2 separate regions of the Homo sapiens genome follow, and region 2 is linked to region 1. A link means that fine-mapping ties the variant in region 1 to the expression of a gene that starts in the linked region. Tissue or cell type: subcutaneous fat. Region 1 holds a variant in brackets; the other region holds the start of a gene. All regions are shown on one strand. Distances are between the middles of the regions.

Region 1 (8,117 bases):
ACTGAAATTTGGATTTCAGATAAACAATGGAAATGTTTTAGTATTAAGTATGTGTCATGCAATATTTGGGACGTGTTTATGCCAAAAAGTTATTGTTTATCTGCAATTTATATTTAACTATGCGTCTCATATTTTTATTTAATAAATCTGGCAACTCTTCCTGTGGGTGTGATGGAGGATGAGGCTGGAAGGCTTGGCAGAGCAAGATCACAAAGGGTCTTGTGTGTCATGCTTGGCAGATAATGGGGAGCCAGGAAAGTTTTTTAAGCAGGGGAACAGTGTAACAGGGTTTGCATTTTAGAATCACTGTAGTAGCCTGTGGAAAACAAAACAGAGTTCAGAAGGACAGGAACTGAGAGACCAGAAAGCTATTTCAATAGTTCAGATTTGAGGGAAATTGAAAATAACTTAACCCACTTCACAGTTCTGCCTAAAGCTAGCAAGGCTCCCAGGTTTCCAGGTTCACTTGGGCTACAGAGACCAACTATTCTTTCAAGAGCTACTCTTTGTTTTTGTTTTATTTGAGATGGAGTCTTGCTCTGTCGCCAGGCTGGATTGCAGTGGCGTGATCTCGGCTCACTGCAACCTCCACCTCCTGGGTTCAAGCGATTCTCCTGCCTCAGCCTCCTGAGTAGCTGGTACTACAGGCACATGCCACCACGCCCAGCTAATTTTTTTTTTTTAAGTAGAGACGGGGTTTCACCATGTTGGCCAGGATGGTCTCTTGACCTCGTGATCCACCTGCCTCGGCCTCCCAAAATGCTGGGATTACAGGTGTGAGCCACTGCGCCCAGCCTACTCTTTGTTTTAAGGAACAAAAAAAAGCTCTGGTGGAGCGTAGAATATATTTATTTATTTATTTATTTTTGAGACGGAGTCTCGCTCTGTTGCCCAGGCTGGAGTACAGTGGCGCGATCTCGGCTCACCGCAAGCTCCGCCTCCCGGGTTCACGCCATTCTCCTGCCTCAGCCTCCCGAGTAGCTGGGACTACAGGCAGCCGCTACCATGCCCGGCTAATTTTTTTTTTTGTATTTTCAGTAGAGACGGGGTTTCACCATGTTAGCCAGGATGGTCTCGATCTCCTGACCTCGTGATCCGCCCACCTCGGCCTCCCAAAGTGCTGGGATTACAGGCGTGAGCCACCGCGCCCGGCCGAATATATTTATATATACATAATATAGTGTCAGGCCGGGTGCGGTGGCTCACGCCTGTGATCCCAGCACTTTGGGAGGCCAAGGCAGGCAGATTCACGAGGTCAGGAGATCAAGACTATCCTGGCTAACACGGTGAAACCCCGTCTCTACTAAAAATACAAACAATTAGCTGGGTGTGGTGGTGGACGCCTATAGTCCCAGCTACTCGGGAGGCTGAGGCAGGAGAATGGCGTGAACCCAGGAGGCAGAGCTTGCAGTGAGCCAAGATCGCGCCACTGCACTCCAGCCTGGCTGACAGAGCGAGACTCCATCTCAAAAAAAAAAAAAAAAAAAAAAAAAAAATATATATATATATATATAAACACACATATATATACTGAGTGTCTTGCCCAAATCCTGTGTCAATCACATACTTCTTGAGGAAGCTAGAAAGATATGTGTATATATCAATCTCTCAATAGACTAAGCTCAGTATCTCTTTCACTATTGCATCCCCTGTAGGTAATCAATAAACATTTGATTCTTAGATGATGAGTTCCATAAGGGCAAAGTCTGTTATCTTCATCATCTTTGTTTCTTTAGCACCCCACCCAGGGCTGGGAATAAGTTTCTCAGAAAATAGTTCTTGATTAAAGTGGTTTAATTAATTAACAACCAGAAGTGCTTCCTATTAACTACATTTCTCCAACATTACTTCAAAGGTACAACCTGGCATATTTTTCACATGAACGCAAAAGAAGCTTGCCTCTTATAATGGATCAGAAAATTGTTTCTTAAAGCTGAGGAATTATACTGACTAGATGGAGTTTTAAAGATAGTATTCCTCATTTATGTGAAAATGTGAGATTTTTTTTCTTGAATTTTCCTGCTTCCACAAGCTTTATCATTGTGTCGATACTAGTAAATCTTTAAAAAAAACCCAATCTTAATTAAATACAGCTCAGGTAGATCATCATAAACTGGTACAAAGTGGTCTTCTCTTTCGGTTACCAGTATCAGTCTAGTTCCTTGTATCTGTATCTCTTCCAAAGCTGAAGTGTGAACTTTTTGAGGCCAGGAACTATTCTGATTTATCTTCATAGTCACAGAACTTTCATTAATAGTAGGTTTATTGAATTTCCAAGGTCAGGCAGCCAAAAGGGAAAGAATAATTCTGGGAAGTGCATGGGGTAAATAAAATGCAGTTTAAAAATTATTATAATGACCCTTTATTGAAGATTATTTTCCGAGTATCATGCTAGGTGCTTTACATATGTCTTAATACATTTTGATTACACTTCAATTCTAAAAACTCTTGAGCTAGCTGTTATAATGCTCATATTATGGGTAAAGAAACTAAGAATCGCAACTGATAAATAACTTGCCCAGACTGACACAGTTAACAAATTGGCAGAGCTGAGATTAGTACCAGACTCCAAAGTCTGTGCTCTCACCATGACTCCAGGAATTGTCATTTTCAAGTACATATTGGAGAGAGGAAGACTGGTGAGGTGCTTATAAGAACTTCCTTTAATCAGCCACTACATGGTACCTCAGAAGACTAAAGTTTGATTTTTTAAAAATGTGTGAGTGCACATGTGTGTAAAACAAGAGGTATGGAGGTATTTATTATAACTATATGTTTTGAGCCATGTTCTTTTTTTTTCTGTTCAGTTTTGTATTCAAAAGAACAAATGACTTTACATATATAATTAGACTTCATCTCCACCTTGACTGCAAACTGATGATATACTTAAATTACTATCACACTGTTGTTATCAAGGATTAAACATATGGGTTGTAGATGTTACAATCATTCATACCAATTTCATTTACCCCATCCAGAGGAATACATGTAGATCATGTTCAGATATGCAATGGAACCTTATCAGTCCAGATGTATAAGAACTGATCTGTGACAATCCAGATCCTCCTCTGAGCTGTAATTGTATACGGCAGTTATTCTGTTTTTTGTTTGTTTTGTTGTCGTTGTTGTTTTTGGTAAACGTGTACTTTTTGCCTGATGCTAACATCTTTTCAACAGTCCTCTTTTGCCTGCTCAACCGCCAGTCTCCCAGTTCAGTGATCCCAGGAAGAATCAGAGTCTTGTCTGCCCATGATGATTTGCTTCCAGTCTGCACCAGGTTAAATCACACCTTAAACTTTATCAAACTTTTGGAGTCTAAAAGCAAAAGCAACTCACAAAGTGCAAAGGTTGGCATAACTAATTTATTCATATGAATCAGAAAGAATTTAAAGAAGAGGAACCAAATATGGTAAAACGAGGGGCGGGGCGGGGCGAGGGGGGAAGCAGTTGATTTAAAAAATTGAGAAAAGCAAAACATGTTTTGCCTGGCTTTGTAACTAAAGAAGACTGCCAAAAATGGTCTGCAGAGGTGTAAGAATCAAAAAGCATCTCCAGTGTTCTACCTTCACCAGAAACATGCAAGGAATTTCCTAGGATGGAATTATGGAAAAGATCCTCTTCAGGCCTTCATTTGCTCATTCATTGCTAGTCATGGTGCTAAATATGGGAGATATAAAATGAGTATGGCATGGCCCTGGCCTCAAAGCTTACCCTAGTGGGAGATACAGCAACTGTGCCGTACGCTGATCTGTGAAAGGCACCAGAAAATAAATGTAAAAACCATACAGTGGATGCACAAAGGGGAGAGTGGTCAACTCTGTGAGTCTAATAAAAATAATTCACAATAAGCACATAGCGATGTTCCGTGAGTCCCGTCCCCACCCCATCCTCTTATAGCCAACCCCTAAGAGAAACGACAGGTGAGCAGGGCGCAATCCAAGCTGGGCTCTAATTAAATGTGTGCCCTAGAGCAACTCCTAGCACTACTCAGAGTCTCCGTTTCTCTCCCTGTAAAAGCCAGGAACCCTGCTCAACTATGAAGTCCATTTCTGCTCTGAATTAAGAAATAGAGGAAAAAAAAAAAA[AC/C]CAGAAAGGAAACTCACGAAAAACAAAAGTGAAAGTGCCTGAAGGGAACCCAGTAGTAAACAAGAGTACAAAATTCTATATCTCACCGGAAAACAGTGGCAGAGTTCCCAAATATTTTTTTTTCAGCAACTGTGAACTTCGGAAAGAATGAAATGTCTATCACTCCCTTTGAATGTGAATAAGATCAGTGTAACACGAATCCACCTTGCTCTATGCAACTGTCTTCTGAAACAATCCTCTGACCCTGAACACCACTTATTTAAATAAGCGGTTCTTAAATCAATCAATCCGTAGTGAATGGTCCATCCCCACAAAACCAATCCCCATTGAAGACCACACCAAGTTGTGCCCCACTTTGGGAAAAGGGGGAAAGCGGGGGTAGAGAAAGAGGGGAAGGATTGGAACCAACATTAGATTGTGCCTGGTGTTGCCACGCGGTTGTCATAAACAACGGCGTCGAAGCAAACTGTTTTAAAACTTAGAAAATACGGCGGCCTTTAAACTCTATTATGTCCCTGCTCATGGCAATAGTGGGACTTCTCTGAACGTAGCCCACAACGGTACAGCCGCCCGGGAGGGAAAGCGAGCTCTGGGGCGGACAGGCGAGTGAAGGCAGCCAGAGGAGGGGAGCAGGCTGACAGCTCCCCCAGCTTCCGCGGCGCGTGGGGGACCAGGACGGGCGACCGCCACAATCAGAGGGTGCGAGCTGGACCCACCGGGGCCACTGGTCTCCAGGGTGGGAGGATGGCTGCTGCCTGTCCGCTGCCGGAGCCTCCTTTCTCCCAGCAGAGGAGGGAGAGCGCGCGCACGTACACACACTCTCATACACACACGCACGCACACACATCCTTCCCTTAGAGTTGTGTCTCGTCTCCCTTTTGTTTTTCTCCCTTCCCGGTCATGAGACCCGGAAGTTTTTTTTTTTTTTTTTTTTAATCCCGTCTCTCTCCCTTTTCCAACCCCCCCGCCATCTATCACATGGCAGAGATAGAATAAAAACAGAAAAATGGCGACGGTCACGTTGTGGCGAGCCTTGCTGCGTCATTAGATAATCCTCATGCAAATAGCGGGAAGAACAAAGGAAGGGGAGCCCGGGACCCCCGGGGGCGCAGGTGGGTGTGGGGGCGGCGGCCGGGCGCGGGGGCGGCGGGGCGCGCGGGGCCGAGCGCCCGCGGGAGGCGGGCTGCGTGGGGCGTGCGGCCGCGCGAGGCTCGGGGCGCAGAGTGTGGACGTCCGAGTGCGCGCCCGTGCGCCGCCGTGGAGCGCTGGCTGCTGCGCTCCCGGCCCCGTCTCGCGGCGCGTCGGAGCCGGCCTGGGGACGCGGGAAGCCGTGGGGCGCACAGAGCGGCTCCGGCGAGGCTGGCCGCGGCGCACACGCACACGCAGCCGTGGGGCTCGGCCCGCTAGGCATCCGCACTGGGGTCTGGGGGCGGGCCAGGCGGCGCCGGGGGCCGAGGGCGCGCCACTGCCCAGCGCCTAGCGCCTGCCTTCAGCCTCCTCCGGGGACCGCACGCAGTTCGCCACCTCGGGGTAGGCGGCGGAGCGCGGGGGCGGCGGCGCGGGGCGGGCCGGGCCGGGCCTCCGCACTCCGGGACCGACTGCGAGGGTGTTGCCGGACTGGGTTTGTTGTTGTTAGCGCGTGCGTGTGTTTTTCCCGAGGGGTAGCGGGGCGACCTCGCCCATGGGCATTTCCGCGGTTTTGCGCGGCCCTCGCTGGGGTGTCAGTGGCAACGCGGGGAGCCCCGGGCGCCTGGCTCGGCCCCCGGAGGGGAGCGGCGCGGAGGGGCGGGGTGTGTGTGTAAATGTTGCGCACTCGCTTTTCCCCCGCCCCCGCCCGCGTCCAGGGTGCTGGCGTGGGTCCCTTGCCGTCCGGCGGCGACTGTAAATAGAGCCTGGATGTTGTTTACATGAAGGATCCGGCGGGAGGAGTCTAAGAGGAGGAGGCGGCGGTGCCGGAGGAGGAGGAGGAGGGAGGGAGAAGAGAGGAAGACCGGAGTCCCCGCGGCGGCGGCGGTCCGGAGAGAGGGCGAGCCCCGCGCGGCGCCGGGGACCGGGCGCTACCACGAGGCCGGGACGCTGGAGTCTGGGGTAGGAGGGAGAACGGGCACGGGGCGGGAAGAGGGGTCCGTCAGTGGCATTTTTAGCTTGCACCCTGCCACGCAGATTCTCCCCGGCCGGAGGGGAGGAGGGTGGAGGGAGGGCGGGGAAGCCTCGGTTTCTCTGCACGTTCGGGAACGCCTTCTCCCCCTTCATTCTCCCATTCCCAGTGTTTTCCCGCTTCTCCCCGGGCTCACCTGTTTATTTCCATCAGCTAGAGCTCGTGGTTTTTTAATATAGGCATGAGAGTCTGTTTCTTTTATTAGAAACATTATTGGGGAGAGGGGTGCTTTGCTGTAATTTGTGCTGGTCCAGGTCGGTTTTCAGGAAGGGGGAGGGGACTTGGCGGAGACGCCGGCTCCTGGCCGCAGCTGACCCCAGGGCTTCTCCCTGCCTTCCTGTGCGAGGAATTCTTTCCCTCACTCTGCTACCCGCACGCCAGCTGCCACCTTCCTGGAGAAAGACCACACCTGTGCTTATCCCTGCTTTGAAGGAGAGGTGAGCTGAGAAACCAGGGAATCCCCTGCTCTCCAGGGTTCTTAGTTAGTCCTCTCCGCAATCCCAGCATTGGCCAAAAATTGCTGCTTTCACCTGCTGATTTAATTTGGCATGTCTGTCCCCAGCCCCCCTTTCCCCCGGCAAGTTGTGATCTGCAGATGTTTTGGGATTTTCTCTTCCCTCTGGACCTGTCCCCCACCAACCAGCAAATAGCTCCTGGGCCTAGGTTGAGGGAGAGAGAGAAGTGACCCCCTTTGGCCAGTGCGCTGTTTTTTATTCCCCTCTGGGTCTTCTAATGGAATCTGCTGTCCCTCCGTAGCCCCCTTTATTTTCCCCTTAAGCTTAACCCAGAGCCAGGCCTAAGCAGCCTGTCTCTGGCTTTCTTTCCCCAGGCCCCACCCTGGCCCCTTTTGCTTTTCCAGCGCCAAAAAAAACGCCTCCCAAGCAGAAGACACACCCAGCCCAAGTCTAACCATTCCAAAAGGGAGGAAAACACAGAGGAAGAGCAGGGACCCAAGGGTCTCCTGTCCTGAATATTCCAACAGCGTTTCCCTCTAAAAGCCTCCTAGCTTTATAATCCCTTTATTCTGCTTACCAGTCGACCCTCCCCTCCTCTTTGCCCCTTGTTCTGTGATAGATATTTGGGGAGAGGGGTGGAGAAAGAGGTTGTCACCCTCTGTTCCTTACAGTGAGGCATTTTTCTTTTTCTCAGTCTTTTCATTTATTAGATGTTTAGCATGTAAAATATGTAAATCTGTTTGCAGGCTTATTTGAACTTGTTTTCTTGCTGGCTAAGGAATAGCTGATATTCTATAAAGGGAAGGAGGGGGGAAAAGATCAAAAGTAACACTCTGAGTTTTCCCCATTTGAGCATCCCCAGAGTTGCCAGAGAAGACCCTCCTATAAAAACCAACAGTCTCCCTTCCATGACATCACCACCTAAGCCCTTCCAACTTTAGCTTCAGAACAGGAAGAAGGCTCAAAATAGAACTACCTTAGGAATCCAGCTCCTTGAAAAGATCAACTTTTAAATCAGCTGCAGGAGGAACACAATGAACTTTGACATGGGGAGTGAGAAGGGAGAGAAGACTGTATAGTGTTCATAATTGGTTCCTTTGAGGGAGGGTTGGGGGATACTTACCGTGTATTTCAGAAAAGCTTTCCTCTAGAGTTGGGTACCTAGACCACTGAATGATAAATAGGATGGTTCAAGATTCATTTATTGAATTATTCATAAGTTTTTGTACGTCAACAATAACAAGCACGTTTCAGAATATGAATTAAAGAGGGGCCTCTCTGCAGAATCTGCTCTAGATAGAGAAGGTTGTTTCAGGAAGCTAGGAGGGCACTTGAAGACAGAGAACCTGAGGATGCAGTGACAGCTGCTGTGAGTATGTAAGTTGAGAGGCTCATAAACAATAATTGTGATAAACAAT
Region 2 (8,117 bases), 79 kb before region 1:
TAAGCACAAACTTTTACCATAAATCAGAGCTAATTAAACAAAATGGTCTCTATGCTATAGGTTGCTTGACTTCTGGACTAAGATGTACTGTCTAGAATTTGTGACCCAGGCCTTTAATACAGACTCGGTAAGCTCCTTTTATACATTAGGTACTTTGCCTGATCCCTGTCCTCCAAGTTTCAGAGTGGAAATTGTACAATGGTATAGGCAGAAAGAACAAAAGGCCCAAGAATGGGCCAGGTGCAGTGGCTCACACCTGTAATCCCAACATTTTGGGAGACTGAGCCAAGAGTTTGAGACCAGCCTGGGCACTAAAGCAAAACCCCTATCTATAAATAATAATAAAAGAGGCACAAGATTATCTTAATGCTATTGCCCCCAGCACCTAGAACATTGACGCACAGCAGCCACTCAGCAGATATCTTACTGGGTGTGAGACAGGCATTTTTACACTGCATGATATATGACTGCAACATTAGAATCAATAAGACATGTGCAGAGGAGAGGAGGTCAGGTGCGGTGGCTCACATTTGTAATCCCAGCACTTTGGGAGGCCAAGACGGGTGGATCATCTAAGGTCCCGAGTTCGCGACCAGCCTGACCTCGAACCTTCGTAGAGATGGTGAAACCCTATCTCTACGAAAAATACAAAAATTAGCCGGGCGTGGTGGCAGACGCCTGTAATCCCAGCTACTTGGGAGGCTGAAGCAAGAGAATCGCTTGAACCCGGGAGGCAGAGGTTGCAGCGAGCCGAGATAGCGCCACTGAACTCCGGTGTGGGTGACAGAACGAGACTCGTCTCAAAAAAAAAAAGTTATGTGCAGAGGAAAGAGATGAATTCTGCCAGAGCAGGTGAGGGAAGACTTCCAAGAAGCAATGACATCAGAATGGCCCTTTCCTGAAAGAGCAGCTTTTCACCAGGCTGCAGGAGGAGGAAAGCCATGTAGACAAGAGTGTGCCCAAATCCAGGCTGGAGCAGATGGCCGGAGCTACTTTCCAATTCAAATTCCTACACGGTTCTATTTCCTGGGTTTTTGTTGTGCTTCATCGTCTCCTTCAAACCTTCCATTATAAAGGGTACATACAGAAGGGTGGTTGTGTTTCCCACCAGGAAATCAGCTAAAAGCAAACAGCAGGTAACAGACAGAAAAATAAATACCGTGGAAAGGAATGTTTTATTTACCAGGCAGTAAGCCTATAAGATTCTCAGACCTTCTGAGAGGGAAAAATAATCCGATAACCCGAAAGTTCACTAGAAACAAGCCACTTTCAAAACAAATTGCTGTCCTTTATTTTTCTTCTTTCTTTGATAAAGTTTTTTTTTTAATTGGCTCATGCAAAAAGCTGCTTGATTCCCAACAGAAAAAAGAAAATCTAAACATTTCATAGTCATTTCTCACTCCAGGGAGGATCACTGGGGAGGAAATGAAGGCATTTGAAAGAGAATGAAAACTAAAATTTAGAACACAGGAAAGTTAAAAAAAAAAAAGAGAGAGAGAGAGAAAGAGAGAACAAGGGAAAAGAGCAAATGGAAAATTTTCAAAGCCCCTAAGAAAGTGCAGAAATAAGCTACTTCCCATCACACTCTCTTTAAACATGGAAAGGGCTATGAGTCCAGTCCCAGGATGGACAGTGTGAAGCCCTTCATTCCAGAAGGAAACAAGTCACCAAGTAAGGTACAGAGAATTATGGAATGGGCTCATAGAAGGAAACAAGTCTCCTAGTCAGGTACAGAGAATTATGGAATGGGCTCATCTCTTCTCACTGTCTTCCTTCACTGACTCCATGCCCCTACCATGAAGAAGCCCAACCTAAACACAAAACCATTAGGATGAGAGCCAGCCTTCCCCCTCAGGCCGCTCTCCCCTCAAACCGCAGCATTTCAAGAATAAAATGCATGTGAATGTATTAAAATCAAAATAGGCGCACTTGAGGTAACAATACCCACAACAGAAAACTCAAGTGCAATCTGGTACACATAATTCTTCCTTTTGAGACATGGGGGTGGGGGAAGAGTTTCCTGTAAAAGTCCGCTTTTTCAATCTGCTTAAGAGATAAGGAATACAATTCTGGAGATACTTCTTAATTCCTTGCTTTTAAGCTTTCCTTTTGTTTTCTGGTACTGTCCTCCACCTTCCTTTTCAAGCCAGTCTGTGCTTCTGAAATGCAGATCTCCGGATAATTAGTCCATGATGGGCAATAACCAGCCCGGACATCCTTGAGAAGTACATCGACAGTAAAGGACCCCTGCTGGGAAGAACAACTTTTCATAAAGGAGTTGCTAATTACCAGCATCTCCATCCCAGAAGGGTTAAGAGCCTCGCAGCAGCACAACCGCTACCTCTCGCCTTTTAACGCCAATTCTTTCGGAACTGGTGTGAACGTGGAGTGGGAGGAGAGGGGGAAAGGGACGCACTCAACCCCGTCAGACTAAGAAATCAGGCGATCTATATATCCCCAAGTTCACCACGCCAGCCAAAGGAGGCATCTCATGCCAAGGGAGGCAGCTCAAGAAGCCATTTCCAGGAAAGCTGCATTACAAAATGTAATTTATCAGAACGAGTCTCCTCCGAGTCTCCTGACGGCCAGGCCCGGCGGCTTCGGGAGGGGGGGGAGTTGCTGGGGAGAGTTTACCTTAGAAGGCGACAACGAACAGACAGGCCTTTCAAAGCCACCCAGGGCTCTGCCCCGAGGCCCGAGGCTGCGTGGAGGGGCTGGAGAGGCGCGAGGCTGCGAGCCCCCCGGCGCCACAGGTTCCCCGGCGCGCGGCCCCGCCCGACTGCCACAGGTGGGCGGCGCTCCGCCTCTGGGCTCCCGCGGGAGGGGGCGCGCGGCTCTCTAGGGACTCGGGGGAGGGGGCCAGGGCTAAGGGGTACGGGGACGGCTCTGCCTTAAGGAGGGCAGCGTGAGACGGAAGCTCCGGGTTTTCCCTGCCTAGTTCTCGTTCCCTCGGCCGGGTGGCTCGGGCTATTCCTCGCGACAGGAGGAGCGGTGGAGAGGAGCCGTGGGCACCTCCCACCGGCCGCCCCTGGAGCCTCGGCCTCCTCCCCAGGCGCGGTTAAGCCGCGCGGCCGCCAGCTGCATGCGCCCCGGCACGTACGAGCCTGCACGACCACACGCGGGCGGGGGAAGGGCGCCGTGATCCGGGAGCCCCAGTCCCTCCAGGGCCTCACCCCAGCCCAACGCGGCTCGCCCCCGGCCCTCGTCCCCGCAGCCCCTCACCGGTGCTGGCCTTGATGTTCTCCCGCAAGAAGTGGCCGCTGGAGAGATGCTGGAGACCAAAGTTCTGGGCGATCCTCTGGCACACGGTGCCCTTGCCCGAGCCGGGCGGCCCGAGGATGACCGCGCGCAGGAGTTTGGAAGCCATTGCCTTCGCGAGGAGGGGGGCGGTCAAACGCGCAGCCCCGACCGCGGCCCCGGAGGAAGCCCCGGGAACTTTGTTTCTCGGCCCCCTACCTCTGGCACCCTCCGCTCTCACTGGGACTCGCCGGCCGCCCCTACAGGGGGAAGGAGAGACTTTTAAGACAACCCCTCCCCTCAGCCCAGCGCCGGGACCGAGTAGCAGGCGGACTGAGCGCCACGCTACACCTCCCCGCCCTTCTCCACCTCCTCGCCCTCCTCCACCTCCTCGCCCCCACGCAAAGCTGCTGAAGCGCGCCGTGCCCCGCCCTGCCGACTCGGCCTCCAGGGGTCAGAGGTCGGCCCGGCCAGTCCCACCTTCATCCTTAACTCCAGCTCGCTCCCCACGCCGCGTCCGAGAAGGGGGCCGGGCGGCCAGGCATCCCCAAGCCAGTCTCCGCCGAGCCGGGGAAGCTGGCACAAGCGGGGGTGACTCAAAGCCAGCCCCCGCCGCCCCACGCACCGGGCGGCCTAGGGGCTGAGCCCCTGCCCGGTCCTCGCACGTGGGCAACGTGTGGTCTGCGTCTCGTCCCCTCCCCGGCGGCTGTCACATCCCCCGGAGTCTCAGCTGCCGCCGCTGCCCGCCGCCCGCGCGCGCTCGGAGGGGCCCACCTCCGCCCGGGGTTGGCGGATGCGCTCCCCGGCCATGGGGCGCGCGACGAGCCCGAGCCCCGCGCCTCGCCACCAAAAGCAATCAAATAAACACACACCTTGGCTGGAGGCAGCACTCCGAGAGGCTTCCAGCCCGGATCCTGCAGGGCGGCGCCGCCTCCGCCCGCCCAGTCGCGGAGCCCCGGCCGGCCGCGCGGGACTCGCGCCTTACGTAAGCCCGGGAGACCGGCTCCGCGCGAGCCGCTGGCCGCCGCCCCCTCCCCTCCACTCCACTCCACTCCCACCCAGCCTGCCTGGCCCACGTGCTCCCTGCGACCCAGCGAGGGCTGCGGGGGCGAAGCGAGGTGCAGACCACGCGAGGTAGAGAAACCCCTTTTTTTCTTTCGCGGTCGCCTGGGGACCGCGGTCTACTGCAAGGGAAGGGAAAAATACAACTTGTTGAGCGCCTACTGTGCGCCAAGTTTGCGGCTAGGTGATTTCATTGTGTTTACAGCCGAGGAATGGAGCGTGACCATTCATTCATTGATTCATTCTGCAAATGTTTATTGAGTGCCTACTGTGTGCCAGAAACTATTCTAGGCGCTTAGGATCTAGCCGTGAACAACAGATCGAATCCTGCTCTCAAGAAATTGCGTCCTAGCGGGAGGCTGGAACCCAAGACTGACTGACTCCAAAGTCTAGGCGCCTTAGGGAACAGGGAAGAAGGGGATGTCCCTCACCTGTGTTCAGGACCTTCTTGGTAAATGATTCCAGGACTTCCATGCGCATTATGCTGGTGCTGCACCTATAACTCACCAAGTCCAAATGGAGTCTGTCTTCCCCCACTCCACCCTCCCCTGCATATCCCAATCCACATTCTGTTAGATCTGTGCCCACCTTACACACAGCCTTTAATTTCCCACCCCAACTAGTGGGATAAGTGCCCATAAGACTCCAGTTTCTGTGCCATTCCATTTTCCGTGCAGCTGCCAGGAATACTGATAAAGTGAAAATCAATATTTATTATTTCCCGGCCTCAGATATTGTCTTCCCTTCAGGATAAAGTGAAAAATCTTCAGCAGGGGCGCAGAGATGCCTTCCGTACACCTTTGCATTCTGCAGGCCCCCTCCTCTGCCTTCCTTCCACAGGCCACCTGCCTTCAGGAAATCTGTTGCAGAGTTCCCAGCACCAATACCCAGGACTCAGAGAAGGTGAGGGACACAAGTAGTGGGATGGTGTGGAGAAGAACCCCCTCTCAGCTCTTTGATTGGGGTTGGTGGAGGGCAGGGCCTGGCATAGTTTCCTGACACCCAGCGCCTCTCCCCACTGCTTACTCCACGCACAAAATTGGCCAGACAGCACACCCAGGCCACCAGCCCCAGGCCAGCATTTGTTCCATAGACTGATCTCCCTCTAAAATGTCTCAGTGTGGCCGGGCGCTGTGGCTCACACCCGTAATCCCAGCACTTTGGGAGGCCAAGGCAGACGGATCACTTGAGGCCAGGAGTATGAGACCAGCCTGTCTAACATGGTGAAACTCCGTCTCTACTAAAAATAGAATGATTAGCCAGGTGTGGTGGTGCACGCCTGTAATCCCAACTACTCCAGAGGCTGAGGCAAGAGAATCACTTGAACCTGGGAGGTGGAGGTTGCAGTGAGCTGAGATCACGCCACTGCACTCCAGCCTCGGAAACAGGGCGAGACTCTGTCTCAAATAAATGATAAATAAATAAATAAATAAATAAATCTCAGTGTGCTGTAGACCTGATACTGAGCCCCTTCAAACCTTTTCTGGGAACAAAGAGGAAGAACTTGCGGGTCTGGGGGTGGGGGTATATGTGTATAATATGTAGCAGATACTTCTTTGGAGTGGCTCTCAGAAGTGAGCATGCATCAGAATCACCTGGAAGGCATGTTGAAACGTGTTGCTGAGCTCCCCCTGCATAGTGCCACGCACGTCCATGTGAAGAGACCACCAAACAGGCTTTGTGTGAGCAATAAGGCTGTTTATTTTACCTGGGTGCCGGCGGGCTGAGTCCGAAAAGAGAGTCAGGAAAGGGTGGTGGGATTATCATTAGTTCTTATAGATTTTCGGATAGGCGGTGGAGTTAGGAGCAGTGTTTTGCGGGCAGCGGGTGGATCTCACAAAGTACATTCTCAAGGGTAAGGAGAATTACAAAGTACATTGATCAGTTAGGGTGGGGCAGAAACAAATCACAGTGGTGGAATGTCATCAGTTAAGGCTATTTTCACTTTTGTGGATCTTCAGTTGCTTCAGGCCATCTGGATGTATACGTGCAGGTCACAGGGGATATGATGGCTTAGCTTGGGCTAGAGGCCTGACACACAGAATCTGATTCAGTGGATTGAAGGTGGGCATTTCCATCAAGTTCCCAGGTGATGCTGAGGTTGCTGATCTGGAGACCACACCTTGAAAACCACTGCCATAGTGAACAGAGCATTGAGACACAAGATGTGTGGTGTCCTGATTCCTCTGCCAATGTATGACCTTTGGCCCTTAACCTCTACTTTGTAAAATGAGGAGGTTGGATTTAGTACATCCTGAAGATTCCTTCATATCTATTAAGAATTGACTGTAACTTTCCACAGGAAATATGGCTTTTAGCCCGCACAGACTAGCTATCCTATAGCCCTACCTTACCCTACCACCTAGTTCTTTTGTCTACTTTTGAAATGTCTTTACCAACATTACCTTATAGTGTCATGGAACAGTGCTAGCCACCCACATGATTCTAGGACTTTATGCTTTTAGGAGTATAAATTATTAAACAAAGAGTTGTGACACACATTAGAGAAACCAAGATTGGAACCTCGCATTTCACAAAAGAGCCCTCAATGGACCATCCCAGTGCATGGCCATCTCATGGTCCCTCAGCTCAGCTGCTGCTGACTTGGAAGTGAAGCAGAAGATGAAGAAACAGACTTTGGAGTCCAACACACCTGAGATCAAATTGCAACAGCACCATTCACTAACTGCAAATTTCATGATCTCTGTGAGCCTTAGTTTATCTGTAAAAGGAAAATAATACCTCAGAGTCTTGTGGTGAAGCTTAAATGGAGATCATGTATATAAAGGACTCAGTACAGGGCTGGGCATACAATAAGTATTCAGTCGTAAACATCATCATCACCAGTATTAATCATGGGTCAATTATTTAGCCTCTCTAAACCCAGTTCCTGAATGGTGAGAAATAAATGAGATAATACAACAAAGCACCTAGTCAGTTCCCTGGCACTTTTTTTTTTTTTTTTTTTTTGAGATGGAGTCTTGCTCTGTCGCCCAGGCTGGAATACAGTGGCACGATCTCAGCTCACTGCAAGCTCCGCCTCCTGGGTTCACGCCATTCTCCTGCCTCAGCCTCTTGAGTAGCTGGGACTACAGGCACCTGCCACCACGCCTGGCTAATCTTTTGTATTTTTTTAGTAGAGACGGGGTTTCACCGTGTTAGCCAGGATGGTCTCGATCTCCTGACCTTGTGATCCGCCCGCCTCGGCCTCCCAAAGTGCTGGGATTACAGGTGTGAGCCACCGTGCCCAGCCTAATGATAGCCATTCTTATCATATACATACACTCAGGTAATTAACTTCTTCCTATTTCCTTTGTCTAGGGTTTTTAACCCATTTGTAATACTTATCACAGTCTTTGAGTTATTACACAACTATTTATGTTTTTGTCTCCCCTCTAACACTATAAAGTCTGAGGTTTCTGTACTCAAACATATACCCTTTGTAATAATCTGTTAATGTTGGCAAGTCTCTATCCCTCATAACACACTCAGTACCATGCAGCATTGCCTGCCTGGGACGATAGTACAAAGGGAGCCGGACCTCAAATCAGATTTCCTCATTCTGAGCACAGTGCTCTTGTTCCTCTAAACTTCAATTATTTCCACACTATTTTTACAGTTTTGCCATAACATTGTACCACCTTGGCTGTTATTTGCTTATCATGTTTTTTTAATTTTTTTTATATTGACTGAGTTTGTTTAAATAATTGATCTGAGGCTGAGTGCAGTGGCTCATTCCTGTAATCTCAGCGCTTTGAGAGGCCAAGGCGGATGGAGGTCCGGAGTTTAAAACCAGCTTGGCCAACATGGTGAAACCC

Direction of the effects. Positions count from the first base shown, and alleles are read on the strand shown. Sizes are in standard deviations (SD) of each study's normalised expression.
For the expression in subcutaneous fat of the gene that starts at base 3,572 in region 2, C is the high allele of the variant in region 1 and AC is the other (small effect, 0.31 SD a copy in FUSION).

What was found. PIP is the estimated chance that this variant, and not a neighbour inherited with it, causes the effect.
Region 2: it holds the start of AK4, and the variant in region 1 is fine-mapped to the expression of AK4 in subcutaneous fat (FUSION, PIP 0.95).

The regions. Positions count from the first base shown.
Region 1 is chr1:65,064,685-65,072,801 of GRCh38, reverse strand. It overlaps a transcript of JAK1 not described here. Among named protein-coding and RNA genes, the nearest start is that of MIR101-1, 10 kb to the right of the region's middle. RefSeq lists a silencer at 5,328-5,927. The variant AC/C (reference allele first, on the strand shown) is at 4,086.
Region 2 is chr1:65,143,658-65,151,774 of GRCh38, reverse strand. It overlaps AK4 (adenylate kinase 4), which reads right to left and starts at 3,572. Exons shown (of 5, transcript NM_013410.4): 1 at 3,223-3,572. The coding sequence starts at 3,367. RefSeq lists enhancers at 1-14, 1,605-2,323, 2,324-3,042 and silencers at 2,636-2,915, 2,976-3,275, 3,656-4,155, 4,166-4,405.